Homo sapiens: one gene and its partners. The protein of the gene in region 1 purifies or fractionates together with the protein of each later gene. This does not show direct contact. Each region holds a gene or a part of one and is shown in the gene's direction. Other genes may lie near its edges. The genes, in order: RBM24, ANKRD40, PPL, CALML5, DMKN, SERPINB3 and SERPINB13.

Region 1 (4,035 bases):
GTTGACACTTCCATCCAAACGGGTTTAAAAGGAAACTAGGTTGTCAAGAAAATGAGTGTTTGTGCAAATATTCATGGGCGTTAAAAAAATTTGTCTAATACATTGTGGGTATGTAGTATCCAGAAAAAAAACATTTTTTTTTGTGAATTTTTAATACTGGAAAGTGTAAAACCCATAATCTTCCAAAGCATTGTCTGAAGCATCCCAGAACGTTCCAAATTACAAAGACTTTTCATAGATTCTGGTTCAAAACTGTGAGAATATTTGAGATGTAACTTCACTGTCAAATCCTGCTGTACTTAATTTTATTTCATGAACATTTTCCCAAGGTCTGATTCTGTGTCTGTCAACTAAAATTTGCAGATTTTTTTAAAGTTTTCACCTTTTCTCTGTTAAAACCTTTATTTTGAATCAATGATAGCATTTATAAAACTGACTTTAAAAAATATACATACATATAGTTTCTTTAAAGTGGCGAAAGAATGTTTATCTTTTATAAGTGAAAGTTGTGATTGCATTTTACATGTAGGAATAATAAATGCCTAACCATGCACAAATAAAGAATGTGGTATATTTTGTTGTTAGGTTTTGCCTTTGGTGTTCAACAACTTCATCCAGCCCTTATACAAAGACCTTTCGGGTAAGTTGATTAATCAGGCTTTCTTAAGTTTCAGTATGACTATCATTTGTTAACGTGCCTCTTTGTTATATACAGATAAGATCATGATGTCACAGAATGGTCCTAGTTATACAATTTTATATATATTTGTGCATTTTTAATGCTGATACTATAAATATTTTTAGATGAGTCAAGTTATCTGACCAAGTATGCAGCCTCCAAACGAGACAAATTTTGAGCTTATGATTAGCAAAACAAAACAAAAATACCAGGTATGACTTGTGTACAAGACGATTGTGTCCCATCACCATTACTACTGTTCGACTTGACTCAATTTTATTTATCTCTTTCTAACCTGACAGGGCTCGTATACAGTTAAGCTAACTGATCAGAAGGATACCATGATAAGAGGTGGAATAGTTCTGTTTGGAATTAAACTCTGTAACCAGTAGACTCAGACACACAAGCTCAGATGGTGATTAACGATGCATGGATGTTGGTGTTGTTGTTTTTATTTTTCACAATAGTCAATAGCCCTTCGTGTGCTTTATTTTATTTATTACAGTAATGAAGTGGTGTTGATAGCTAAACTGTGTGCTTTTTACTTAATTGAAAAGAGCTGTAGTGAAAGTGTTTTCTTTTCCTCGGGGAAGGGGCTCTTTGCGTTTTGATTTTGGTGGTGGTGTTGAGGGGTGTTGACTTTTGACTTTGCCATGGGAAGCAAAGGGCCTTTTTTTTTTTCTTGCTTTTAAGCTGTAGCCTGTGACTTCCATTTAACCACATTTTTGTAGTGAGTGCTAAATTGTGTGATTTCTCTTTGTCAGAATACAGATTCATTGCTTGCATGTCCTAAGTTTCTGTTTTATGGGAAATTTTCTGGGAATGGGGTTCTTTCTTTTGCAATGTGTATCCACTTTTAGGCCATCTAATTTAAAGGTTCAACAACTCTCATCAGATTTTATTAACACAAGCCAGTTTTTTTGAGTAGCGTCACACTAACTTTCACCTTTCAGATCTAACTCAGGTGAACACCTGTTCATATTTATGTTGTCTTTGGGTCCTGTGATTACCAGTTTTCCTGTTCCAAGGTCCTCATTTCTCTTCCTTTCAGAGGTTATATGGGTGGGAGATCACCCCTCGCCTCAATTTATCCTGGACACTAGATTCTGTTTTGGCTCTGTTCTACCTGATCAACATGCCTGTAACTCTAACGCAGGATACTTAAATTTTCTTTTTAAATGTTCATGTTGTTGAAAGAGTGTTTTATCCTCAATAATAATTTCTCCTCTAGCTTAGGACCTAAAACATCTACCTGTGTAACCTGGAAGGCTGGAATCTGTCTACATAGATAGATGTCTACCATATGTGTCTCTAAGAATAGATTTTAAAAAGAAATTAATAATAACTTGACTTGGAAGAGTAAAGTTATATTTCCCATGACCACCTCCTTACAACTCTAACATATCGGTACCTCACTGTTATTGCCAACTACTACTATTTTTTTTTTTTTTTTTTTAGCTGTGGAAGAGTCTTCTGTTCAATATGATCAGAAAGGGCCTTCCTATATCCATAGCTACTTAGCAAATCCCCATCCAAGCCAACCCAAATACTGAAAACAAGTGGTGGGTTGATGGGTTCAGCTATTTCTGTGGGTAATTCATTTAGACTTAACTGTTTAAGGTGGGATTAGGGAGGAGAGCATATATCTGAAGGTGTGATGTGAGCTTAGTGGTGGGCTCACACTAATAATCTTGAAACAGTTATAAAATTGAATCAATCAACAGGTAGTTGCATGTGTTTATTTTTTCACTGTGCCAGTGGGTGATGCAAAATGAGGGAATTGCACATTAGTTTGGGAAGCAAAAGTCATGCAAAAACCAGTCAAGAATTATTAATTTCTAAGTGACTTGGTATTGTTTCAAGTACAAAAGGAATTCAGAGTAGCAAGAAAATAGATGAAGTGGAGGAGTTGAATAAGGCTGTGGTGTGCATGGCAGGTAGACTGGCACTAGACTTGCACCACTGGGTATGTCTTAGGCAGGTAAAAGGAAGACTGGATATGTCTGGAGGGTATAGGATGGAGTGAGCCGAAGCAGAGGCATAGAGGAGAAGACTCAGTGCGTGGAGAAACCAGACTGTCTAAGGTGGGTCTTGAGAGCTGGGCATAGGAATTTGGACTGATTGTGGAAGTCCTTATAGATCAGTTCTTAAGAAAGAAGGTAACACAAGGAAAATTACAACCACCAGTGTAAGATGTGTCATGGAAATTTGAAAGCAAGTGTGTTTTGATAGCAACCTTTTGTTTTTCACCTCTTCTAATATTAACTGTCTTTATAAAGGATGGTGATTATTAGTGTGTGCATAAATTGTTTGAACTTGAGATTCTTATTAGAAATAGATAGCATTCCAGGTGGACCAAGTGAGCTTTCTCTTTCTTTTTTAAGAGGTTCTCAACACTGCTCTAATTTCAGAGTCTGTACCTAACAAATCACACCTGGTCATCCTAAATTCTGTTTGAATGCTACATGTTCCTATTTTAGGCCTGGAAAGAAACTTGAGAATTTCAAATTTGACTTGACTTACTTGAAATTCTAGTAACTGAACTGTTCCTTTGAATGTGGTCCTTAAATGGCCCCCAGGTGACTTTGGGCCTCTGTAGACAAAACCTTGGCCTAAAAGGAATTTCTGATGTAGCACAGTGGGCAGATGTAGAAAAACTTATAAACTTGCTAAACAATATTTTATAGTTTATGGTTGAAAGAAGCATTTCCTTATTGAAACCTTGGAAAGGGGAGGCTACAGATCTGTGAGTAGAAATTTCTGGGCTAGTGGCCAGGTGCGGTGGCTCATGCCTGTAATCCCAGCACTTTGGGAGGCCGAGGTGGGTGGATCATGAGGTCAGGAGGTTGAGAGGGCGAGACCATCCTGGCTAACACAGTGAAACCCCATCTCTAATAAAAATACAAAAAATTAGCTGGGCGTGGTGGTGGGCGCCTGTAGTCCAGCTACTCGGGAGGCTGAGGCAGGAGAATGGCGTGAACCCAGAAGGCGGAGCTTGCAGCGAGCCGAGATTGTGCCACTGCACTCCAGCCTGGGCGACAGAGCGAGACTCCATCTCAAAAAAAAAAACCAAAAAACAAATTTCTGGGCTAGTTTAGATGAGGTTGAACATACACTTAAACATTGACTCAGTACCCCTTTAAGTGCTCAGTTTTATGCTGGGTGTGGTAACACTGTGCTTAGTTTTTATAGTGTCCACTAAGGAGGGCAGGAGGGACTGTAACTAACACTAACCAAACATCTGCCATATGGATTGTAATGATAAGGGATTTACATAAATTACATAATTTAATTCTCACAGTAAGTGTTTGTTGAAGGCATTGTTAATATCTTTTCCAAAACTAAGACACAGAGAG
Region 2 (4,035 bases), on another chromosome or scaffold:
CACAGGCGAAAAGTATTTTCCTTCCATAATATACAGTCAGCTCTGGCACCTAGGGATGGATTTAGTTGCTCTGAATCTTTCATTTCTGTTAAGATGGAGTTTTTGCTGGCATGCTAATTATGTTTCTGTACAGTATTAAAATAGTAGCCCTTCAGAGTGTGCAGAATTGCTTCCTCTGTGTACAATATTGAGTGATTAGTTTTACTTAAATGAGTCTGATATGTTAGAAGAACCTGTTCGTGAAGAATTTTGGTTGTTGATGTATATTTTTTAAGTACCTCAGGAATTAAAGTATGTGTGCAGTGCCTTACATTTACGCAGATGAGGATATGTTTGTAGCCTTCTGGAGAGAACTAGAGAAGCCAACTTTTTAAAAATGGAAATTTGGAAATCCTTTGTGTGTGTGTTAAGGAAAGAAAAGTAAGAAGGAAAAAGAAAGTGAGCAACTGGGATTCAGGCAAGAATATCTGCTGTCATAATAATAATTTAAGTGACAGAGCAAGCTGCTGATAGGAGATGGTTATTATCCTGATAATATTGAATCTTCAGGTGGCATATGAAGTGAGTTTCCATAGTCCCTGAAAAGGAATATAGCAATAGAAAAATATGTTTCAGAGACTGAGATGATCTAATGAGCGATACTGATAGAGTATATTCCACGGTATCATTGGAGTTAGCCAGCCAGTGAGCTTACCTTCTGGAGGCTATTGAAATTAAAACTCCTAGGTTAAGTTAGTTTTTCTCAGGAGCCAGAAATGAAATTTAAAAACAAAATTTAAGCATATTAAATATTTTGCTCATCGGCTTTGTGAAAAGTTGAGATTACCAGCCCGGTTACCTGGTTCTAGCTGAACTCTAACAGGCTTGTTTATACATTATTTACTAATGTTTAGAATCTGAAATCCAAAATCACTTCTCCTCTTTTTCAATCATTATTTTCTTTGGTACAGGACTTGTTTACACTGGGCATGTAAACGAAACCATGGTCAGGTGGTCTCTTACCTGTTAAAATCAGGAGCTGACAAAGAAATTCTTACCACAAAAGGAGAAATGCCAGTCCAGTTAACATCAAGGAGAGAAATCAGGAAGATTATGGGAGGTGAGTCTGTGTTTGGGGGAACTTTTGATTTCCTCAGACTCATTGAAGACTTGTGGTATTATTGGCTACGTTCTTAATGCTGGTCAAACAACTGCTCTATTTCTTTCTTTTTTTTTTTTTTTCCGAGACGGAGTTTAGCTCTTGTTGCCCAGGCTGGAGTGCAGTGGCGTGATCTCGGCTCACCACAACCTCTGCCTCCCAGGTTCAAGTGATTCTCCTGCCTCAGCCTCCCAAGTAGCTAGGATTACAGGCATGTGCCACCACGTCTCGCTAATTTTGTATTTTTAGTAGAGACGGGGTTTCACCATGTTGGTCAGGCTGGTCTCAAACTCCCGACCTCAGGTGATCCGCCAGCCTCAGCCTCCCAAAGTGCTGGGATTACAGGCATGAGGCACCGCTCCCGGCAACTGTTCTATTTCTAAAAGCAAATTACTGTGCCAAGATAGTAATTCCAGATTGTTTCTGGGGAGGTCAGCATTGTAAGGTTTTATTTTTTTATTTGTAAAATTTAAGATAATGATAAAAATGGTAATCATAAACCTAATGAAGTATTCTTTTTTCTTCTGACCTGACACTGACCAATGTCACATACCAAAAGACACCACTTTCAAAAGACACCTTGTTTTGATAATTTTGAAAGGACTGTGTAAATGTTCTGTTTTCTTCTTTTTAAGTGGAAGAAGAAGATGATGATGATGATGATGATGACAACCTCCCCCAGCTGAAGAAGGAGTCAGAACTGCCCTTTGTTCCCAACTATTTGGCCAACCCAGCCTTCCCTTTTATCTATACACCCACAGCAGAGGATTCAGCCCAGATGCAGAATGGGGGCCCCTCCACACCCCCTGCATCACCCCCTGCAGATGGCTCACCTCCATTGCTTCCCCCTGGGGAACCTCCCCTGTTAGGGACCTTTCCCCGGGACCACACCTCTTTGGCACTAGTTCAGAATGGTGATGTGTCGGCCCCCTCTGCCATACTCAGAACACCAGAAAGCACAAAACCGGGTCCTGTTTGTCAGCCACCAGTGAGTCAGAGCCGCTCCCTGTTTTCTTCTGTCCCGTCCAAGCCACCAATGTCTCTGGAGCCTCAAAATGGGACGTATGCAGGACCAGCGCCAGCATTCCAGCCATTTTTCTTCACTGGAGCATTTCCATTTAATATGCAAGGTAACCCCTCATCAGCAAACAGCCTCTGCAACAGGGGAGTTGGTGTCCAGAGGGGTGGGATTTAATGAGGTATTCTGGGTATAATTGCAAACTTACAGAAACGTTACATGACTAACATAAGGAACTCCCTTTACTCAAATTCACAAATTGTTTACCTTTTGCCCTTTTACCCTGATACCCTTCAGTATTCTTTCCATTATATCTTTCCTAAGAACAAGGATATTCTCTCTTTTTTTTATTGAGACGTAGCTTCGCCCTGTCACCCAGGCTGGAGTACAGTGGTGTGATCTTGGCTCACTGCAACCTCCGCCTCCCAGGTTCAAGTGATTCTTCTGCCTCAGCCTCCCAAGTAGCTGAGATTACAGGAGCATGCCACCACGCCTGGCTAATTTTTTTTTTTTTTTTTTTTTTTTGTATTTTTAGTAGAGATGGGGTTTCACCATGTTGGCCAGGCTGGTCTCAAACTCCTGACCTTAAGTGATCTGCCTGCCTCAGCCTCCCAAAGTGCTGAGATTATAGGTGTGAATCACCGCACCCAGCTGGATATTCTCTTATATAACTACAGTACAAATGACCAAATTTGAGAAATGTAATCTTGAGCTAATGCTGTTCTGTAATCCATAGACCATGTTTAAATTTTGTCAGTTGTCTCAAACATTGCCTTTTGTATTCCCTCATCTACTATACGTACTGTCTGTACTATTACAGAAATAGTACTATCTGTACTATTGATATCTATCTGGACTATCTGTACTCCTCTGCCCCCTGCATCCTGCCCAGGATCATATGTTGCATGTAGTTATCACGTTGTTTTAGTTTCCTTTAATCTGGAATCTTTACCCTTTATCATTTTTGATCTTGATCTTTTTGAAGAGTCCAGGCCAATTATTTTTGTGGGATATGATTTTCTATCATTCTTTCTCTACTTATTAGTTGGTATTTTACTGTAAAGAAGGGCTTTCCCTTCTCCTTCATTCATATCAGTATTGACTCATATATTCTTATTTTATTCAGTGGGTTATAATCTGTTACTATCATTTTTTAATTATTCAAATTATCCCAGATTTGGCCAGTGGGAGCCCCTTGAAGCTAGTTCTTATGTCCCTTGCATGTGTCTTCATTGTTCTTGGAGCACTGCCTTACTTTCTGGGGCAGCAAGATGTTCCGGGCTTATAGCATAACTTTTCCTGCCCCAACCCTGGAATCAGTCATTTCTCCAAGAAGCCCTGGTTCTTTTTGGTGGAGAATGGTATTTAGGGCACACAGCAAACTTGCCTCCCACTTGGGCCCACCGAGAATGGTATTCAGACACCAGGATGTGGTCACTAGGTGTCCTCATTGCTACAGGTATATCATTTCTTCTAGGCCCGTTGAGAGGACATAGCCAGGAAAGATATCAATATTTCTCTATGTATAACTTTTTAAAAATATTAAAAACCACAAGTTCATCCTGATTCTTCCAAATCCAGTCAAATGCCATAGGGTGTAGCTAGTCTTACTTTTCCTTTTTTCCTGGAAGTAACTCTCTCACTTCCTGTTTTTGAGGAGTTACTACTGTAGGTGCTAACAGTGACCTGGGGTGCTACAAGGGATTCATATACAGGGAACAAAGCAGAACTGCCAAATGTACAGGGTGCTTGACTCAGGCTGTCTTGGCAGCCAGGTTCAGAATAAAGGAGCAGATTGCTTAGATCCCAGACCTATGAATAATAAGCCAAGACCCCTTCCTCATGAAGGTGTGCTACATTCAAATCAAGTTATACTTTA
Region 3 (4,035 bases), on another chromosome or scaffold:
TATCCTTAAGGAAAAAGTACAAAAAAAAAAATGCAGGATAAACAACATTGTTGCAACAGCACTATTTACAATAGCAAAACTAGTACGCTGGAAAGGACTGGTGTCCAGTGGAAGGGGAAAGCTGCGTGAATCAGCACACATCCACCTGATGGATTATAAAGTCAGCAAGCTGGTAAACATGAGAAGAGGTGGTGGCAAGGTGAGACAGGGTTATGGTACGATGTTAAAAGCAGCAGCAGAATGTGAAAATCTCTAGGCATGTAGAAAGGCTGGGAGGGGAATTCAGGGGGCACTTCTTGTCTCATATGTTACTGAGTGATGGAGCTATGTACTGCTGAGATATCAGTAATTCTCAAAACCTCCTGGAAATCACTGCAGGGTGCAGCTGTGAGGAAGACCCACGCAGATTATAAAACCAGCACATGGCACAGGGCAGGTCTGGGTCAGCCTGAAGGGGTACAGGAACATGTCTGTCTCTTCTCAGCTGTTTTAATCTCCCCTCTGCCATGTCTCTCCCTCATGCAGGACTATGAGTTAGAAGCAGAAAAACTAAGGTCTCTTCTCGACTTGGAGAATGGAAGGAGAAGCCACGTGAGCAAGAGAGCCAGGCTCCAATCTCCTGCCACCAAAGTGAAGGAAGAGGTGAGTTCCATGGGCCAGGCGGCCTCGGGACTGAGGTGGAGGCCAAGCTGCCCTGCTCCCCAGGGAGCATGGTGTCACACGCTGGCCTCAGAGATGCACACACAACAGGGAAGCCACTGAGAGCCCTCCTGCATGCAAACAGGTTTGGTAAGAGATGAGGAACTTGTTCTAGGGCAGTGACATCAATATGCCTAGAAAGACAGCAAGGCCGGGCGCAGTGGCTCACACCTGTAATCCTAGCACTTTGGGAGGCCGAGGTGGGAGAACTGCTTGAGCCCAGGGGTTGGAGACCAGCCTGGGCAACAAAGCAGGACCCCATATCTACAAAAATATTAGCCAGGCGTGGTGGTGCAAACCTGTAGTCCCAGCTACTTGGGAGGTTGAGGAGGGAGGATCACTTGGGCCCAGGAGTTCAAGGCTGCAGTGAGCTACAATCACACCATGGCACTTCAGTCTGAGTGAAAGAGATTCTGTCTTTAAGAAATAAAAATTTTTGAAAATGCAGCTGAACAGAAGTGTCAGGGTCAGAACCATGGATCTGGGAAGTTCCTGTTTTGCTCACCTCAGTAAGTACAGTGGAGGGCTGATATTAGTCTCCTGTACACACAAGAGAGAACACTGGTGCTCTAAGAGGCAGAAAGACTTGCTCAAAGTCAGTGTGGCCAAGACCCTGGCCTGGATCTTCTGCCTCGAGATCCATTTTTCTCTCCACCGGTGAGGCTACAGTCTAACTCCAGGCAGGAGTGGGCAAGAGCTATGCCTCTACCCCCAAATTCCACACTTCTCAAGAACCACGTCCACGCTGTCTAGCTCTCTGTTGCTTACCCTGTTGACACCTGTTTGTTGACCGCTCTCCTAATCCTCTTCTCTGCAGGAAGCAGCACTTGCCGCCAAGTTCACTGAAGTTTATGCCATCAACAGACAGAGGCTGCAGAATCTGGAGTTTGCTCTGAATCTCCTCAGACAGGTAACTGATCTTAGTAAGAAATTCTACTTCAGGCTGTTCTAACAGGTGACAAATACAGACTCTGTCTTAGAGAAATGGTTTGTGAATTGATGGAAGTGTCCCCTTGCTAACGTTTCTGGGCAGGGCCAATGCAAAGACTGGCCCGAGCCAATGCTTCTACTGACATGAGAACTTATTCAACTCAGTAAACATCTGCTGAAAGTGAATGCTATTTTCAGCTGGGCATGGTGGCTCACGCTTGTAATCCCAGCACTTTGGGAGGCCGAGGCAGGCGGATCACCTGAGGTCAGGAGTTCGAGACCAGCCTGGCCAACATGGTAAAACTCCGTCTCTACTAAAAATACAAAAATTAGCTGGGCGTCGTGGCGCATGCTTGTAATCCCAGCTACTCAGGAGACTGAGGCAGGAGAATTGCTTGAACCCAGGAGGTGGAGGTTGCAGGGAGCTGAGACTGTGCCACTGCACTCCAGCCTGGGCAACAGAGCGAGACTCTGTCTCAGAAAAAAAGAAAGAAACAAAAGAAAGTGAATGTTATTTTCTGAAGTCCATGATGTTGATGACAGCATTGTTTTTTAATAGCAAGACACTGGAAGCAGTTCACTCTTCATCAGCAATGGGCTAAACTGCGGTCTGTCCAGAGAGCGGAAACAATGCTGCTGGTAAATCCTGAAGCAGCACTCTCTGTGCTGAGCTGGAATGAGCTCTGTAAGTGCAGTGAGCAGCAGGAATACCATTTGTGCAGGAGAGATAAACACATGGTACATACTACAGACAGATATTCTTGTGTGAGCACAGATAGCATCTGCAAGGCTGACAGACACGCCCTAGGACGGGGACCAGAGGTGGGAGACCGTGGTTTCATTTTAAACTCTTCCACAGCTCAAAAATGTTTTACCTGATTAAAAAAAACCCCAAACTAGTTGTTTGATCCTTTTTGAAAGTAACCCTAGAACTCTACAACTAACATGAACTGGCACTGAGGGAGTCCCTTGGGGACCACAGGACAGCCACTCTGACCAGGTGGGGACAGGCCCTACATGTGCTGCCAGAGCCTGGCTTTAACCTTGTCTTGTCTTCTCCATCACAGCAGCCGGAAGTAGAAGTGACCCATGAGACCCTGCAAAGGAATAGGCCGGACTCTGGAGTGGAGGAGGCGTGGAAGATCAGGAAGGAACTGGATGAGGAGACTGAGCGGAGGCGGCAGCTGGAGAACGAGGTCAAGAGCACCCAGGAAGAAATCTGGACCTTGAGGAATCAGGGGCCTCAGGAATCGGTGGTGAGGAAGGAGGTGCTCAAGAAGGTGCCGGATCCCGTGCTGGAGGAGAGCTTCCAGCAGCTGCAGCGGACGCTGGCAGAGGAGCAGCACAAGAACCAGCTGCTGCAGGAGGAGCTGGAGGCACTGCAGCTGCAGCTGCGTGCCCTGGAGCAGGAGACCAGAGACGGGGGGCAGGAGTACGTGGTCAAGGAGGTCCTGCGCATCGAGCCTGACAGGGCCCAGGCGGATGAGGTCTTGCAGCTGCGGGAGGAGCTGGAGGCACTGAGGCGGCAGAAGGGCGCCCGGGAGGCAGAGGTGCTCCTCCTGCAGCAGCGTGTGGCCGCCCTGGCTGAAGAGAAGAGCCGGGCGCAGGAGAAGGTCACAGAGAAAGAGGTGGTGAAACTGCAGAATGACCCCCAGCTGGAGGCAGAGTACCAGCAGCTGCAGGAGGACCACCAGCGCCAGGACCAGCTCAGGGAGAAGCAGGAGGAGGAGCTGAGCTTCCTCCAGGACAAGCTCAAGAGGCTAGAGAAGGAGCGGGCCATGGCCGAGGGCAAGATCACCGTCAAGGAGGTGCTCAAGGTGGAGAAGGACGCGGCCACCGAGAGGGAGGTCAGCGATCTCACCCGCCAATATGAGGACGAGGCTGCCAAGGCTCGCGCTAGCCAGAGGGAGAAGACGGAGCTGCTCCGAAAGATATGGGCCTTGGAGGAGGAGAACGCCAAAGTGGTGGTGCAGGAGAAGGTGCGGGAGATCGTGCGGCCAGACCCCAAGGCGGAAAGTGAAGTGGCGAACCTCCGCCTGGAGCTTGTGGAGCAGGAGCGAAAGTACCGGGGTGCCGAGGAGCAGCTCCGGAGCTACCAGAGTGAGCTGGAGGCCCTCAGGAGGCGAGGCCCCCAGGTGGAAGTCAAAGAGGTGACTAAGGAAGTCATTAAGTACAAGACTGACCCTGAGATGGAGAAGGAGCTTCAGCGGCTCAGGGAGGAGATCGTGGACAAGACCAGACTGATCGAAAGGTGTGATTTAGAGATCTACCAGCTGAAAAAGGAAATCCAGGCCCTGAAAGACACCAAACCCCAGGTCCAGACCAAAGAGGTGGTCCAGGAGATCCTCCAATTCCAAGAAGACCCTCAAACCAAGGAGGAGGTGGCGTCTCTGAGGGCAAAGCTCT
Region 4 (3,399 bases), on another chromosome or scaffold:
TTCCCTTTTGTACCTGGTCCACGGAGCTCCCTCTCTGCAGACCTCAGCCTCTCCCTCTGCTGTGGTGCTTCCGAGCCCTTTGCACCTCCCTCTGGCCCCTCACATGCAGCTCAGGGAGCAGCTGCCACACTAGGGCTGGCTGGGGCATCTTCCCTCCTCTCACTGCTCTGCCTGGTTTGCCCCTTGTGTGGTCCTGGGGGACTGAGCTGTGGGTCATGGAGTGCGTGGTTGGGCACCCCAGCCTCCGGCTTCCCTTGGAGAATGTGTGCAGCACCAAGGGGCTGGGAGGTGTTTGTCTGGCTGCACTTTAGGGAAGGAGAGGGCACTTGGTCTATTTGATGGGCTGAACAGGAGGGAGGTGGAATGTATAAACTTTCCCAGGGGAATAAAGGAGTTTGTTCCCTGTGTACGGGCAGGGGCTGGGGAGAAGAATGGGAATCTATGGAGATCAGAGGGGACTTGCTTGGGAAAGGCATTTTGGGGACTCCAAGGCAAATGTCCCCTCACAACTGTAGATCACATCAGTGGAAGGACTTGGGGATGGTCCCCCGAAAGCTTAGCTGTTGCTCTAAAAGTTGGTCAAGGCAAGTGGCCCTGGGGGTTTCCTTCCAGAGAACAGATCAGATTGAGGACCCCAGTAGGCTCCCAGATGGGTCTCTGTGCTTAGGGCTGATGCTTAGTAAAACCACAAGGAGGGCCAAGTTTGATGGCAGCCACCTGTTCTGCATCCTCCTGCACCTCTGCCTGCACCTTTGGGGTATGCTGGGCACTGAGGTCCCCCGTGTCTCGCTGCAGCAAAACTCCAGCTGTAACTGTTTGACGCCCTGTGAATGGAACGCCTGCCACTGAGCTCCCAGGGTGTCTGCACAGGGAACCTTGGACTTGGCGATGGAATTGAATTGTAGGAATCCCTGAGCTAGAAGGGAGTATTCTGGGGAGACAAAAAGTCTTTCCCTCTCCTCTGAAACTGCACGTCACATGTTCACTTGATAAACACCATCTCAGCACCAGCTATGGCTCTGAAGGCAGCCCTGGTCCCTTGCTTCCTTGAAGTTATAGGCAGTGAGCCCCATCCTCTGTCTCTAGACCCTGGCCTGGGAATCTCATGATACCCACAGTTGTGCCCTGGCAGAATCAACACTACCACCCACTTCCCTTCCACCAGCCCCAGCCTCAGGGCAAGAGCTAGGCAGTAGCACTGGAGAGAGGGGTACGGAAACACCAAACACTGGGGCCTGCTGTGCCCTTGAGGGAGCCCTCTTCAAGCCACCTCCCCCTCCAGTCTCAGTCTTTGTGAAGTTGCAGAAGCTGTCTTGAACCCCTTGGCTTGGTCAGGATCTCCGAGAATCAGCTGCAGGGGAAACTATCCCTTGGGCAGAATGTTCCTGGAGGGAGGTGGTTGCTATCAAGGCCAGGCGGGGTTGGCAGGCTAGCCATCCGATACCCCGACCCCATGGCAGTTCCCACCTGGCACCTGACAGCTCTCCCAACTCCCATTCCTGCATTTCCTGTCTGCAGCTGATCTGGCCCTCCCTGGGAGGAGGCTCTCACCCCAGGGCATTTGGAGGGTGGGGAGCCTCCCTCCTCCCTTTGTTCCGATTGCAGAAAAGGAGGGGGTTCCCATGCCAAGGCAGAACTGTCTGGGACAGACGCTGCCCGGATCCCTGCGGCTGCCTGCACTCTGGACCACGAGCTCTGAGAGCAGCAGGTTGAGGGCCGGTGGGCAGCAGCTCGGAGGCTCCGCGAGGTGCAGGAGACGCAGGCATGGCCGGTGAGCTGACTCCTGAGGAGGAGGCCCAGTACAAAAAGGCTTTCTCCGCGGTTGACACGGATGGAAACGGCACCATCAATGCCCAGGAGCTGGGCGCGGCGCTGAAGGCCACGGGCAAGAACCTCTCGGAGGCCCAGCTAAGGAAACTCATCTCCGAGGTTGACAGCGACGGCGACGGCGAAATCAGCTTCCAGGAGTTCCTGACGGCGGCGAAGAAGGCCAGGGCCGGCCTGGAGGACCTGCAGGTCGCCTTCCGCGCCTTCGACCAGGATGGCGACGGCCACATCACCGTGGACGAGCTCAGGCGGGCCATGGCGGGGCTGGGGCAGCCGCTGCCGCAGGAGGAGCTGGACGCCATGATCCGCGAGGCCGACGTGGACCAGGACGGGCGGGTGAACTACGAGGAGTTCGCGAGGATGCTCGCCCAGGAGTGAGGCTCCCCGCCTGTGTCCCCCTGGCTGCGCTCTGAGCCTTCAGGGCCACCGCCCGCTGCTGCTTTTGTGCTGGGACTCTCCGGGGAAACCTGGTCGGTGGATGGGAAACTGCCTCCCCCTGGGAGGAAGGCTTTGCGCTCCGGGGCCTGGATGCGGCGCCCTCGGGCCGCCTGCGAGCCCCTCTCTGCCTCCAGACCTTGGGCAGAAGGAGGCCTCCTTGGGCCTGGTCCCCCTTTGCCCTGCAGTGGAATGAGGGCCCCTCAGCCCCGCATTGATCTAAATAAAGGACTGCCGAGTTCCATGTGTGCTTGGTGTTTGTGGGGCGGCTGCCTCCGAGGGCCCCCACCTGCTTCCAGGGTTCCTTCCAGCCCACCCCTCTCACCTGCGGTGGCAGAACTGCCTGGAGCAGGCCCCAGGGGCAGCTCCTGCCTCCCCTGACGCGGAGCAGAGGGCAGGTGGGCAGAGGATGTGTGAGGATGGTGCTGGGCGGTGTCTGTGGCTCCAGGTTCTGCCTGAGCTGCTGGTGAGGACCTGGGCACGTGTCCCGCACAAACAGGAGCGGGCGCCTCGCATGGACAGACGGAGCCCAGCTGCCAGCCTCTGCACGCAGCCTGCCTCTCTTCGGCTGCAAATAATATACGTGTACGTCTGTGTGTGCATCTGTGTGTGTGTCTGTGTGTCTGTATGCGTGTCTCTGTATGTGTGCATCTGTGTGTAAGTCTCTGTATGTTTGTGTGTCTGTGTGTCCTTGTGTGCATCTGCATGTGTATGTGTGTATCTGTGTGTGTGTCTGAGTGTGTCTCTGTGTCTATGTGTCTGTGTGTGTCCATTTGTGTGTGTGTCTTATCTGTGTGTCTGTGTCTGTGTGTGGCTTTGTGTGTGTATCTGTGTGTGTGTGTCTCTGTGTCTATGTGTCTGTGTGTGTTTATCTGTGTGTGTCTGTGTCTGTGTGTGTGTCTGTGTATGTGTTTGTGTGTGTCTGTGTGCCTATCTGTGTGTGTGTGTCTCTGTGTCTATGTGTCTGTGTGTGTTTATCTGTGTGTGTCTGTGTGTGTCTGTGTATGTGTTTGTGTGTGTCTGTGTGCCTATCTGTGTGTCTGTGTGTCTGTGTGTTGTGTGTGTCTGTGTCTGTATATGTGTTTATGTCTGTGCATATGTGTCTGTGTCTGTGTATGTGTATATGTGTGTCTGTGT
Region 5 (4,000 bases), on another chromosome or scaffold:
AGGTGAGTCTCTGTCCTCAAGTTACCCTGCAGGGCCCTTGGTCCCCCTTGGCCTTGCTCCCGGGTCTGGGCAATCTGAAATTCTCTTTCACTCCTCCATTCAATGGCTTTCTCAGCCGGGTGCAGGATGGCAGGAGGTGGCAGCTGTAACTTCCAAGGTGAGACATCTACCATGGACCCGCTGGGTTACGTCCTGGCACTTCTTTTCTTGGTCTCCTACCCTCACCTCCCAAGTAACACTTGAAGAGTTGGCAGAGGTCTTGAGGGCAGGAGGAGGAGTAGGAGGAGGAGGCGGCGGCCATTTGGGCTAGGACAGTAAAGGCAGGTGAGGGTGGGGGCCCTGGCTGGCTGGAGGAGATTGTATAAAAGAAAACACGTGACACAAGGAGGGGAGCAGGCAGGTGTTTTAGGAAAGGTCTGGTCCAGGCAGGAAGGTGGGATGTTTATTCCAGAGCAAAATGGCCTTCGTCCGTCTGTTCTAACCGCCATGCCCACTTCTTCCACAGAACTACAATTACAACCAGCATGCGTATCCCACTGCCTATGGTGGGAAGTACTCAGTCAAGACCCCTGCAAAGGTGAGACCGGCAACCACCCTGTCTTCCCGCTGGGGGCTCTGCATGAGGGATGGGGAGAGAGGCTTTCACTGCCGGGGTCCTCTCGGTTGGTTGCCGGAGGCCGGATCCCGCTCTCTTTGAGTCCAGGCCTCCCCACCCCTTTGCAAGGGAGACTCGGGTTCCCTGAGACAGTTTGGAAGTGGAGGGCAGGAGGGTTCAATGCGCCTCACACCCACCCAGTCAGAAAAGGTTAAAAAGGAGCAGCAGCAGCAACAGAGAAAACTGAGAACCAACACCCTCTCCAAGAAGAATATAGGCTTTAAAAAATCATGACACCTGCAAAACACGCAAGCAGCTCTTCCTCACAGGTTCCCTCTCTGTGGACCTTTTTTTGCGGGGGAAGATGGAATGGAGGGCGAGGAAAGCAGACTAGCACTTAGGGGAGGCCGGCCTGTGGATGCCTGGTTGGCGGTGAAATGAATGCTTTATTCCACAAAGGAAATGAAAAGAAAAAATACGTGAGAATTTGGTTTTATTCCGTTGCAAAGAAGGCAATCTCATAACATCAGTAAATGAATATGCTAAGTACAAATTTGGCTGACAAAGCAACAGCAGGCTGTGTATTTCCATCTCTCATGACAATAAAGTCCCCGCCCTTGGGGAGAGGACCTTCCACTGAGGGACGAGAAACTACAGGCTGGTGAGAGGAGGGACATGCAGCTTCTACTGCCTGTGGCTTCCACTCTGCTGAGTTATCTGTGGCTTCCACTCTGCCGGGTTATCTGTGGTCAGTGTCTCCCTACCTGGCAGGCCAAAGCGAGGCCTATGCTCTTTTGACCCCCTTGGTCAGTACGTGCCCAGGAACCATGTTCAATATCATCTTGGATCAAGTGCACTCAGGATGATAAACGTGCTGTGAAACCAACTCCACAGCCTGAATGTCCACAGTCAGACTGGAAAACCTTGGTGATAGCCCTGGTGTGAGCCTGCCCTTGCTGCTGGGCCCTTCATGAGCGTGGAGGCCATGGCAGAGTACAGGGAGGCCATGACCCCACATCACTTTCCTTTGATCTTTTTGCAGGGGGGAGTCTCACCTTCTTCCTCGGTGAGTATGGGGGCCTGATCTTCATCTGGCTGGAGAGAGAAGGGGCCTGAGGCCAGAGGGTATGGAAGGGACCCTGTGGTGGCCACTCAGACTTTCTCTTTTTCTGGCAGGCTTCCCGGGTGCAACCTGGCCTGCTGCAGTGGGTGAAGTTTTGGTAGGTGAGTGTCAGAGTGAGCCGACCCAGGCCACATCCTGGCAGTGGAGGCACAGTCACCCGGGGCAGGGCCAGGATCTTGGTATATCCTCAGATCTCAGTGGGCAGCGACATGAAGTCAGGTATGCTCTGGGTGCGTGCTCTAAAGGTGATAAGGAAGAGGGGACCTCATGGTGGGGTGTGGAGAAAGACCCATAATAAAGTGATCTAGGGCTGGGTGCAGTGGCTCATGCCTGTAATCTCTGTGCTTTGGGAGGCTGGGGTGGGAGGATCACTTGAGTCTGGGAGTTTGAGACCAGACTGGGCAATATAGCAAGACCCCATCTCTAAAAGAACAAAACAAAACAAACCAAAACAAAACAAACCATTCCAGCCTGGGAAACATGGCAAAACCCCGTCTACTAAAAATACAAAAAATTAGCCAGGTGAGGTGGTGCATGATTGTAATCCCAGCTACTCTGGAGGCTGAGGTGGGAGAATCACCTGAGCTTGGGAGGTTGAGGCTGCTGCGAACTGCGATTGCACCGCTGCACTCCAGCCTGGGCAATCACAGTGAGACCTTGTCTCAAAACAAACAAACAAACAAATGAAAAACCTTAGCCAGGCATGGTGACACATGCCTGTAGTTCTAGCTACTTGGAAGGCAGAGGCAGGAAGATCGCTTGAGCCCAGGAGTTCAAAACTGCAGTGAGCTATGATCACACCATTGCACTCCAAGTCTGGGCAACAGAGGGAGACCCTGTCTGGAAAGAAAGAGAGAAAGAGAGAGAGAGAGAAAGAGGGAAAGAAAGCAAGCAAGAGAGAAAGAAGAAAGAAAATGACCTAGGACCCTCGGAAAGCACCTTAGGGTGGGACCACATAGGCACAGCTCTGAGAAGATGGTGTTCTAGATGGAGCACAGGGACCGGGATAGAGATGTTACAGGGGAACTGTGGAGAAAAGAGCCTCCTGGTGGAAGGGTTCAGAGGTGGGACGCAGCGAGGCTGCATGGGCGAGAGGTGATAGCTTGGCTCGGCAGAACCACAAACTCTGTTTTAGGCGGAGCAAAAGTGAGGGGCACCACAGGCGAACAGGTAGGACAGCAAAAGAATGGTGGGTGCCCAGACGCTGGGTGAAAAGATGCCCCGTTTCCGCAGGCTTAGGAGTGGCCACGTGCTACCATTTGATTTTCTTTCTTCTAGGCAATTTCTTGCAACCACCACCGAGGCCCCGAAAAGCACTGGTCGTCAGGGAGCTCCTCCCCTTGGCCCCCAGCCTGTGCCAGCCCTGGCCCGGCTGCCACACCTCTGTTTCCTAGGCTGGGGACCCAGCTTGTCTCTCCTTGTTTCTTCCCACTGCACTGTGGTGCTTCAGTGGCCACCAGCCTCGTCACATACACCAGCATCTTTCTGTACCTCCTCCCTTTGGTGACCTGAAGTCACTGTGACAGTTCTCCAGGAAGGAGGAGCTTCCTACTTTTGAGTTTCTCTGTGGAAATAAAACATGAATCTTGTTTCCCTACGACTTTCTCAAATTTTATTCTTTAATGCTATGTTGATGGCCTGGCTCAGGGAGGATGGAAGAGTGATTCAGGGGCAGCTAATCTGCCTTCTGCCTGAAACTGGTATAAAGCACAGAGGCTGAGAGAGATGAGACCTGGGTTTTATTTCTGACAAGAAGCCTGCATTGTGCCTCAGTTTCCTCATCTGTTAAAAAAAAAAATCATTGCCCAACCTATATCTGAATACCATTCTTTTTTTAGAGACTCAATCTCACTCTGTGGCCCAGGCTAGAGTGCAGTGGCACGATGTCGGCTCACTGCAACCTCCGCCTCCTGGATTCATGCAATTCTCCTGCTTCAGCCTCCTGAGTAGCTAGGATTACACGCATGCGCCACCACACCTGGCTAATTTTTGTATCTTTAGTACAGATGGGGTTTCACCATGTTGGCCAGGGTGTTCTTGAACTCCTGACCTCAGGTGATCTACCCGCCTCAGCCTCCCAAAGTTGCTGGGATTACAGGCGGAAGCCACCATGCCCGGCTTGAATACTGTTCTTTTTTTTTTTTTCTTGAGACGGAGTCTCGCTCTGTCACCCAGGCTGGAGCGCAGTGGCGCGATCTCCGCTCACTGCAAGCTCCGCCTCCCAGGTTCACGCCATTCTCCTGCCTCAGCCTCCCGAGTAGCTGGGACTACAGGCGCCCGCC
Region 6 (4,732 bases), on another chromosome or scaffold:
GCAATAGCTCCGTTTCCACAACTCTCCCCCACTGGAGTGTCCCAGACCCTAACAATACATCACTGAAGTGTGGATTTAGGGATAATCTTGTAATAAAAGAGGAGGTTGGGTAATAGAGTGAGTAAGAGTAATAAGTAATAAGATACCATCGATAAACTGGCACTGACTCAGTCACATACGATACATCTTGGTGGGAAATGTATGACTAATGGGATATTATTGGAATGGGCAGGCTTGGGTGAGTTCCTGAGAATAGTTGAGGAAGTACCAGGAAATACTGAATGCACAGGATGAAAGATAAAAACAAAGATCAGAAACATCATGGTTGAAATTACTGGAAAGAGGTCTGAGAAGCAATGAATCTCCTTCAGGGAAGCCTGCTCTGCAGTTTGCAAACCACAGCCTCTTCTGCTTCTGCCTTTTGCCAGATGATATTGACCTTCGGTGACCTCTTTCTTGCGCCAGCCCGCACTCCGCTTTTGCATTGCCTACATGGCACCAGTATAAAAATATGCATGGACAGGAGATACTGCATCTATTCAGGGTCTGGATTCAGCTTACTATAATTATAAATAACTAAATTTGGTAATATATAGTTACATAAATTACTCTTACTTCCTACTTTCTTCCTTCATATCTCAAAGGAATATTTAGATGCCATCAAGAAATTTTACCAGACCAGTGTGGAATCTGTTGATTTTGCAAATGCTCCAGAAGAAAGTCGAAAGAAGATTAACTCCTGGGTGGAAAGTCAAACGAATGGTAGGAGAGCCACCCATTATAGAAACACCTTTGAGAAATCTATGCGAGTGAGCCCTATGCCTGAAACTGCATGGGGGACCATGGGTGGGAATTGAGATGGCTTTGCAGGGAGGGAAGAAGAGGGCACTCCAGATGAAGAGTTTTTCCAAATGATTATGAAGAGAGCCTAGGGGAGCCAAGGAGGAAATCACAGGAAGCCAATTAGAAGAAAACATAGCCGGAGGATTCTTTGCTCATGTTCCTGGATGACAATAGCTTTGTGGATCCCTTGTCTCCACTCAGGTCCAATTTGAGATCATGTCCTTTACTTTAAATCAGAACCAATATTTTATGATGAATATTTAAAAGGAAACATTAGAAAGCATCTCCCTTCCCCTTTACTAATTGGGAAACAAGCAGCTCTCTGGTAAATCACCCTTTTGCCATCTGAACTAGAGCTGCCTGGATCACATCTCTAGCCACAAGTTCTGCAGGGATTATCACAGCTCTCTTCCCCATCAAGGGCAAGAGCTTAACAAATTCTCCATTCTATAGACATCTATCCTACCTCCCACCTCTCATTACAGGCCAAACTTACAGCAACTCAACATGAGAGTGAATAGGAAGATACCCCCGGAAGTAGTGTCTGACAGCACAGGACATGCGTTTCATATTACAGAGCTCATGTCACTTGTCCTAAAAAGCAGTCAGGGCCTACTTCCTCTGAATGGGGACCCCGTAGTTAAAAAAAAAAAAAAAAAAGTAGGAAGAGGAGGGAGGGAGAAAGGAAAGACACATGTTGAAAGAGTAGACAAAATCAGTTTATCAGTATTCCAAATCAGATGAATGGACTCATTCATACACAGAGAACGTGAACTCCTTCTCTATCACAAGAAGTGATGTCTCCATTAAGGGCAACTTTATACGACTGGAGCCTTGAAGAAAGCTGCATCTGGTGAACCACTGGTCAGTGAGTCTAACAATTCAAAGATCAAAGTCAGTGAGTCTCAAGTAGGGATTTGGGTCAATAATTAACGATCAGTCACGAACATTTGCAAAGCATCTTCCAGACAAGCCATTTGTAGCTTGTGTAAAAGACTCTTTTATTCTTTCCCTTGCAGAAAAAATTAAAAACCTAATTCCTGAAGGTAATATTGGCAGCAATACCACATTGGTTCTTGTGAACGCAATCTATTTCAAAGGGCAGTGGGAGAAGAAATTTAATAAAGAAGATACTAAAGAGGAAAAATTTTGGCCAAACAAGGTATTGTCTATATTTTATTTATATAATGTAATATGTTAATAAATTTAAACATTTCTGATGGAATGTACCATGACAAGTAAAAAATAAAATTGTTCATGTCTGTTTTTTTGTTGTTTTAGTCTTATAACTTTATTTAGTTAGGAATTCCTGAAGAAGCTATTGTCTCTAACTCATTACATTCTTGGATTATTTCTTAAAAGAAGGATGTGTTGATATCTCAATAATATTATCTTTTTGCCTTGTGTCTCACTTGGTATTTGTTGGACACATTGATTTATTGTAGAATACATACAAGTCCATACAGATGATGAGGCAATACACATCTTTTCATTTTGCCTCGCTGGAGGATGTACAGGCCAAGGTCCTGGAAATACCATACAAAGGCAAAGATCTAAGCATGATTGTGTTGCTGCCAAATGAAATCGATGGTCTCCAGAAGGTAAGAACTTGCATCTACAACTCTTCCTTCTACTGCCTGACATTTTTCCAAAGATACCAAGTTTAAACAAGGTAAAAGCTGGTGACCGAGTTGCCTCAAAATAATGAAAAATTCTAAATGAGGAATGATGACTCACCTTCATATTACAAAGATTTAAGCATAGGGCCTGACACAAACTGAAGGCATAGTTAATGATTAATTTATTAGAGTTACATGCATTGGATATCAATTTAATGATATTATTATGCAGCAATTTAAACTTGACTGGGAGAAATATATAGCAATGTGAGGAAAGTTTACGAATACACCAAGTAAAAAAGGGAATAGAAATTTAGGAATTTGGGGAATTGCAATTTAATAATTGCAATGTGTACTAAATAATGTATACAGAAAAATAAGATGAGCCTATTAAAAATTGACACATGTAGTAGGCTGTTGGCACAAGAAATAGTGATATATATAGTTCATTGTGTACAAAATAATGTAATCATATTTTTACATGTGTATCATACAGTTGTATACATACATATGTACACATTACATATACATAAAAACTTGATTCTGTTTATACACATACACATATAACCCAATGTATTTATATATCCAGGACTCATATTTTGCCTATTAGAATAATAATATCTAATAAAGTGAACCTTCTGTATTTCACATTTGTTGCCAAAATAAGGATTCTCCACATAGTCAATTCATTGTTAAGGTGTATTAGAAATCAACAGTTAGTCATATCAGTTTCTTTTTTCCATTTGTATAGCTTGAAGAGAAACTCACTGCTGAGAAATTGATGGAATGGACAAGTTTGCAGAATATGAGAGAGACACGTGTCGATTTACACTTACCTCGGTTCAAAGTGGAAGAGAGCTATGACCTCAAGGACACGTTGAGAACCATGGGAATGGTGGATATCTTCAATGGGGATGCAGACCTCTCAGGCATGACCGGGAGCCGCGGTCTCGTGCTATCTGGAGTCCTACACAAGGCCTTTGTGGAGGTTACAGAGGAGGGAGCAGAAGCTGCAGCTGCCACCGCTGTAGTAGGATTCGGATCATCACCTACTTCAACTAATGAAGAGTTCCATTGTAATCACCCTTTCCTATTCTTCATAAGGCAAAATAAGACCAACAGCATCCTCTTCTATGGCAGATTCTCATCCCCGTAGATGCAATTAGTCTGTCACTCCATTTGGAAAATGTTCACCTGCAGATGTTCTGGTAAACTGATTGCTGGCAACAACAGATTCTCTTGGCTCATATTTCTTTTCTTTCTCATCTTGATGATGATCGTCATCATCAAGAATTTAATGATTAAAATAGCATGCCTTTCTCTCTTTCTCTTAATAAGCCCACATATAAATGTACTTTTTCTTCCAGAAAAATTCTCCTTGAGGAAAAATGTCCAAAATAAGATGAATCACTTAATACCGTATCTTCTAAATTTGAAATATAATTCTGTTTGTGACCTGTTTTAAATGAACCAAACCAAATCATACTTTTTCTTTGAATTTAGCAACCTAGAAACACACATTTCTTTGAATTTAGGTGATACCTAAATCCTTCTTATGTTTCTAAATTTTGTGATTCTATAAAACACATCATCAATAAAATAGTGACATAAAATCATTTTTGCTTTACATTTTCTCTCTGGAAAGGGAAAGTGTCCAGTTACACACAGGAAAGACAATTTAGAGATATATTAATCACAAACAAAGGAAAATTAAAAACAGAGTAGTTCATGATGAGCCTGGAGTAGAAGGCATATCCCAGAACAGGAGGAGCCTTGTAAACCACATTAGGAACTTCCTATTTTATGCTAAAGGGATAAGAAACTCATTACAGGCTTTGATGGTTGTTTGTCAAAGAGGGGCATAAAATTATCATATCTTCATCTTGAAAATACATCTCTGGTTACTCTGATATCAATGGATGAGAGGAAAGAACAGTGTGGTTACCATATATAAATCAGGAAATCATTAGAGTATTGGGGGTGGAAATGAAGAGAAAGAAACAGCCTGGCAGAATTATTTAGGAAGTAATAGTTAAAAAAAGACATCTAAGTTTCTGAGCTATCTGACTGGAAGGATGGAAGAAAATGTTGTTTTTGAGAGAAAAAAAAGACCATGGGTTTAAATTTGTACTTGATGAATTGAGGTACTTTTAATATTCAAATGAATTTGCCTGGCAGGTACTTGAAGATATTGATCTAAATCTCAGAAACAGAATATGATCTGAAGCTCTAAATTTGTGATATTCAACATAAATACTTTAGAGTTATTG
Region 7 (4,035 bases), on another chromosome or scaffold:
ACAGCTGGGGCCACCTAGTCTTCATCTTCACTTAAGCATAGTGCAGGGGTAACGACAACCTACAGCTCTCCCCACAGCAGAGGATTTGACAAGTTTCTTATCCCATTATTCCTTTCTCATCCCCTGGTATGGGAAATCCACAGAGAAATGTTAATGTGGAAATTCACCTTGGGGAGCAATAGCTGATACTTTAGTGTTAGAGTTTCAGATTCCATTTTTATACCAATTATCAGAGAGAACTTTGTTATTCAGAATGTGTTTTTTTTTTCCCCTCATGCTTGGTCTGAAGAAAGGAAATAAAAGAAACAGAAAAAATAGGATCTTTCAAAAAGTTGAACAGTATTTTTTAGAATTTATTGTGGGATGGGGTGAACTCAGAGACAAAAATATCAACTCCTTCTCCAATATAATAAGTAATCCCTTAATCTCAGGTGGTAACTATATTGAATGGTAAGCATAATAGCTAACACAGAGTGCTTATTATGTGTGAGATGGTATTCTAATAGCTTTACATGTGTTAAATCATTTGTTCCTTTCAACAACCCTATGAGGCAGATTTTATTCCTATTTTACAGATGTGGAAACTGAGGCACAGAGAGTTTAAATAACTTGCCCAAGATTCCTCAGCTGATAAGAGGCAAACTGGATGCTAACAGAGGCATCTGACCCCAGAGTCTGGACTCTTAACCATGAACCTTAATTTATCCACTGGGATAAATAGGCGATGGGCAAAATGAGAACCTCCCCGTCGATTCTGCCAGCAAACCCTTTGTCAGCAAGGCCCTCAGGTGCTGACCTGGCTGGGTTTTTAATGATCAGTCAAGTCCATCTGCATCATATTTGTCATACATATTATTTGTCATTTGGAAGATGGGTCAACCTTTTTCTGTTTCTTCATTTGCAGAAAAAATCAAGGACTTGTTCCCAGATGGCTCTATTAGTAGCTCTACCAAGCTGGTGCTGGTGAACATGGTTTATTTTAAAGGGCAATGGGACAGGGAGTTTAAGAAAGAAAATACTAAGGAAGAGAAATTTTGGATGAATAAGGTATGGCCCTTAGTTTATTTTCGTGATGTGCTTACACATGGAATGTAAAGTCTAAAGTCATGGCTGGGCGTGGTGGCTGACACCTGTAATCCCAGCACTTTGGGAGGCCAAGGTGGGTGGATCATGAGATCAAGGGATCGAGACTATCCTTGCCAACATGGTGAAACCCCGTATCTACTAAAAACATAAAAATTAGCTGGGTGTGGTGGTGCACGCCGGTAGTCCCAGCTACTTGGGAGGCTGAGGCAGGACAATTGCTTGAACCCGGGAGGCAGAGGTTGCAGTGAGCCAAGATCATGCCACTGCACTCCAGCCTGGTGACAGAGTGAGACTCCATCCCCCACCCCCCCAAAAAAATCTAAAGTCATATTTGAGCAAATGCATACTGGTAGATAGTGGATGCTCATTCTGAGACTCTGATATTGGGTTTTATTTTAGATTGAGCTAATTATTTTGATGAACTAACTTGGTTGCCTTAATGCCTTTGGTCTTATGTCCTTTGATATTGTGTGCTCTGTTAATTTGTTGCAGAGCACAAGTAAATCTGTACAGATGATGACACAGAGCCATTCCTTTAGCTTCACTTTCCTGGAGGACTTGCAGGCCAAAATTCTAGGGATTCCATATAAAAACAACGACCTAAGCATGTTTGTGCTTCTGCCCAACGACATCGATGGCCTGGAGAAGGTAAACGCTTACACCTCCTTATTCTTTCTTTCATTTCCTAAGGCTTTTTGTCTCAGGGCTTCTGAGTAGGAGCTGGTGGCCAGCAGTGTCAAATAGAAAGTGTTTCTCACTCTCCAGCAGCTACAGATGGATGTCTACTGGGGAGCATTAAATAGTATGGGTCAGGTTTATTGAGAACAACTAATCCTAGAATGTTTGGGATGAACTAAAATGAACATTTAAGATTATATGGGAGTCCTAACGATCACCCACCATTCTGAGAAATGGTTGGTATCTATGGACCCCTTTCCTGGAAAAAAGAAATCACATATGCATATATACAACCAGTTCTGCACACTGTTCAATAGGCTTTTGGAGCTTTTGAATTTCTTTCTTACACTCTTACACCATTGATTTAGTCTCATCCATTCTGTGGTTAAAAAAATTATGTGAAGGCCGGGCGTGGTGGCTCACGCCTGTAATCCCAGCACTTTAGGAGGCTGAGGCGGGCGGATCACGAGGTCAGGAGATCGAGACCATCCTGGCTAACACGGTGAAACCCCGTCTCTACTAAAAATACAAAAAATTAGCCTGGCGTGGTTGTGGGCGCCTGTAGTCCCAGCTACTCGGGAGGCTGAGACAGGAGAATGGCGTGAACCTGGGAGGTGGAGCTTGCAGTGAGCCGAGATAGCGCCACTGCACTCCGCCTGGGTGACAGAACGAGACTCTGTCTCAAAATTAAATAAATAAATAAATAAATAAATAAATAAATAAATAAATAAATAAATTGTGGCTAGTGTCCTGTATTTTGAAAATGAGGAGAGTTTTGTTTCAAATCCCTGTTCCTCTAGTGGCTTTCTGACCCTTGAAGCTTCTTAACTTCCTTGAACTTCAATACTTTCCCATCTCTGAAGAGGGCTCCATGGTGGTTAACGTGCAGCAGTGTTGGAATGATTAGAGAAACGTAGCCTAGAAGGGGTCTAGGACATAGAAAGCACTCAAATGATAACTGCTATCGTCTTATACTACCAGATGCTGTGCTACTTCTGTGAAATATTGCTAGTAGCATTTTAAGTTGGAAAATATTTTGAGACAGCAAAATAGCAATATGTCTGAGAGCTTTAAGAGTATTTCTGATTCAAAAACCCCAGTTGTGGGAATTACTCTAAAGAAATAATGCAGAAGAAAAAAGTTGCCTTTCTGAGTAAAATCAGTTATTTCGGTATTAAATACACTGGAATGCCCAGTTTGAAATTCATCGTAATTATTATTTTGTATCCTTAGTAACTATCAAATCTATCACAATGCCTGATAAAGACTAAATGTTTGTAAAGTGAATGAATAGCTAAATATTGGGAAAAATTTATCAACTTCATAAGAATATTATCTAGCTGTTTGAAGATAGGAGAGATATGCAATATTGTGAAAAAGTTTACTTTTTATCAAATAAAATGGACATTCACTGTGATTGCAACTATGTAAATATATATGCATTCAAAGACTAGGAGAGATAGTTAAAATGAAATATATACTAGGTTGATAAAATAAGAAATGACTTATTTTTAATCTTTAAAAATGTATTCAATGCTATTGGATTTCCACATATACACAGATAATTTAAACAGAGAGATATAAGACAACCGCCTGCAGTATAAAGACAACAATCTAGTGAAATAAAATTTCTACTTTTAATATTACTAAAATTAATAACTTCTGACTGACACAAATCAGTGTTACACTGTTTTAGATTTTTATTGATAATCATGCCATTCTACTCTTCTTTTTTTGAAAATAGATAATAGATAAAATAAGTCCTGAGAAATTGGTAGAGTGGACTAGTCCAGGGCATATGGAAGAAAGAAAGGTGAATCTGCACTTGCCCCGGTTTGAGGTGGAGGACGGTTACGATCTAGAGGCGGTCCTGGCTGCCATGGGGATGGGCGATGCCTTCAGTGAGCACAAAGCCGACTACTCGGGAATGTCGTCAGGCTCCGGGTTGTACGCCCAGAAGTTCCTGCACAGTTCCTTTGTGGCAGTAACTGAGGAAGGCACCGAGGCTGCAGCTGCCACCGGCATAGGCTTTACTGTCACATCCGCCCCAGGTCATGAAAATGTTCACTGCAATCATCCCTTCCTGTTCTTCATCAGGCACAATGAATCCAACAGCATCCTCTTCTTCGGCAGATTTTCTTCTCCTTAAGATGATCGTTGCCATGGCATTGCTGCTTTTAGCAAAAAACAACTACCAGTGTTACTCATATGATTATGAAAATCGTCCATTCTTTTAAATGTTGTCTCACTTGCATTTCCAGTCTTGGCCAT

Evidence for each region.
Region 2: the proteins of RBM24 (region 1) and ANKRD40 purify together in Homo sapiens (affinity purification with mass spectrometry; 3 studies listed by BioGRID and IntAct, with this or other methods). This does not show direct contact.
Region 3: the proteins of RBM24 (region 1) and PPL purify together in Homo sapiens (affinity purification with mass spectrometry; 3 studies listed by BioGRID and IntAct, with this or other methods). This does not show direct contact.
Region 4: the proteins of RBM24 (region 1) and CALML5 purify together in Homo sapiens (affinity purification with mass spectrometry; 3 studies listed by BioGRID and IntAct, with this or other methods). This does not show direct contact.
Region 5: the proteins of RBM24 (region 1) and DMKN purify together in Homo sapiens (affinity purification with mass spectrometry; 2 studies listed by BioGRID and IntAct, with this or other methods). This does not show direct contact.
Region 6: the proteins of RBM24 (region 1) and SERPINB3 purify together in Homo sapiens (affinity purification with mass spectrometry; 2 studies listed by BioGRID and IntAct, with this or other methods). This does not show direct contact.
Region 7: the proteins of RBM24 (region 1) and SERPINB13 purify together in Homo sapiens (affinity purification with mass spectrometry; 3 studies listed by BioGRID and IntAct, with this or other methods). This does not show direct contact.

Annotation. Positions count from the first base shown.
Region 1 is NC_000006.12:17,284,072-17,288,106, forward strand, and holds part of RBM24 (RNA-binding protein 24), read left to right. Parts: intron 1-585; coding exon 586-640; intron 641-4,035. UniProt on the Homo sapiens protein: Multifunctional RNA-binding protein involved in the regulation of pre-mRNA splicing, mRNA stability and mRNA translation important for cell fate decision and differentiation. Plays a major role in pre-mRNA alternative splicing regulation.
Region 2 is NC_000017.11:50,697,632-50,701,666, reverse strand, and holds part of ANKRD40 (ankyrin repeat domain-containing protein 40), read left to right. Parts: intron 1-950; coding exon 951-1,099; intron 1,100-1,773; coding exon 1,774-2,268; intron 2,269-4,035.
Region 3 is NC_000016.10:4,884,709-4,888,743, reverse strand, and holds part of PPL (periplakin), read left to right. Parts: intron 1-525; coding exon 526-642; intron 643-1,516; coding exon 1,517-1,609; intron 1,610-2,696; coding exon 2,697-4,035. UniProt on the Homo sapiens protein: Component of the cornified envelope of keratinocytes. May link the cornified envelope to desmosomes and intermediate filaments. May act as a localization signal in PKB/AKT-mediated signaling.
Region 4 is NC_000010.11:5,497,804-5,501,202, reverse strand, and holds CALML5 (calmodulin-like protein 5), read left to right. Parts: upstream 1-1,632; 5' UTR 1,633-1,764; coding exon 1,765-2,205; 3' UTR 2,206-2,506; downstream 2,507-3,399. UniProt on the Homo sapiens protein: Binds calcium. May be involved in terminal differentiation of keratinocytes.
Region 5 is NC_000019.10:35,496,535-35,500,534, reverse strand, and holds the end of DMKN (dermokine isoform 2 precursor), read left to right. Parts: coding exon 1-2; intron 3-115; coding exon of another isoform or gene 116-157; intron 158-505; coding exon 506-577; intron 578-1,637; coding exon 1,638-1,661; intron 1,662-1,771; coding exon 1,772-1,819; exon of another isoform or gene 1,820-1,937; intron 1,938-2,853; exon of another isoform or gene 2,854-2,888; intron 2,889-2,996; 3' UTR 2,997-3,315; downstream 3,316-4,000. UniProt on the Homo sapiens protein: May act as a soluble regulator of keratinocyte differentiation.
Region 6 is NC_000018.10:63,654,543-63,659,274, reverse strand, and holds the end of SERPINB3 (serpin B3), read left to right. Parts: intron 1-644; coding exon 645-762; intron 763-1,862; coding exon 1,863-2,005; intron 2,006-2,288; coding exon 2,289-2,444; intron 2,445-3,213; coding exon 3,214-3,618; 3' UTR 3,619-4,078; downstream 4,079-4,732. UniProt on the Homo sapiens protein: May act as a papain-like cysteine protease inhibitor to modulate the host immune response against tumor cells. Also functions as an inhibitor of UV-induced apoptosis via suppression of the activity of c-Jun NH(2)-terminal kinase (JNK1).
Region 7 is NC_000018.10:63,593,451-63,597,485, forward strand, and holds part of SERPINB13 (serpin B13), read left to right. Parts: intron 1-575; exon of another isoform or gene 576-724; coding exon of another isoform or gene 725-788; intron 789-904; coding exon 905-1,047; intron 1,048-1,578; coding exon 1,579-1,734; intron 1,735-3,508; coding exon 3,509-3,913; 3' UTR 3,914-4,035. UniProt on the Homo sapiens protein: May play a role in the proliferation or differentiation of keratinocytes.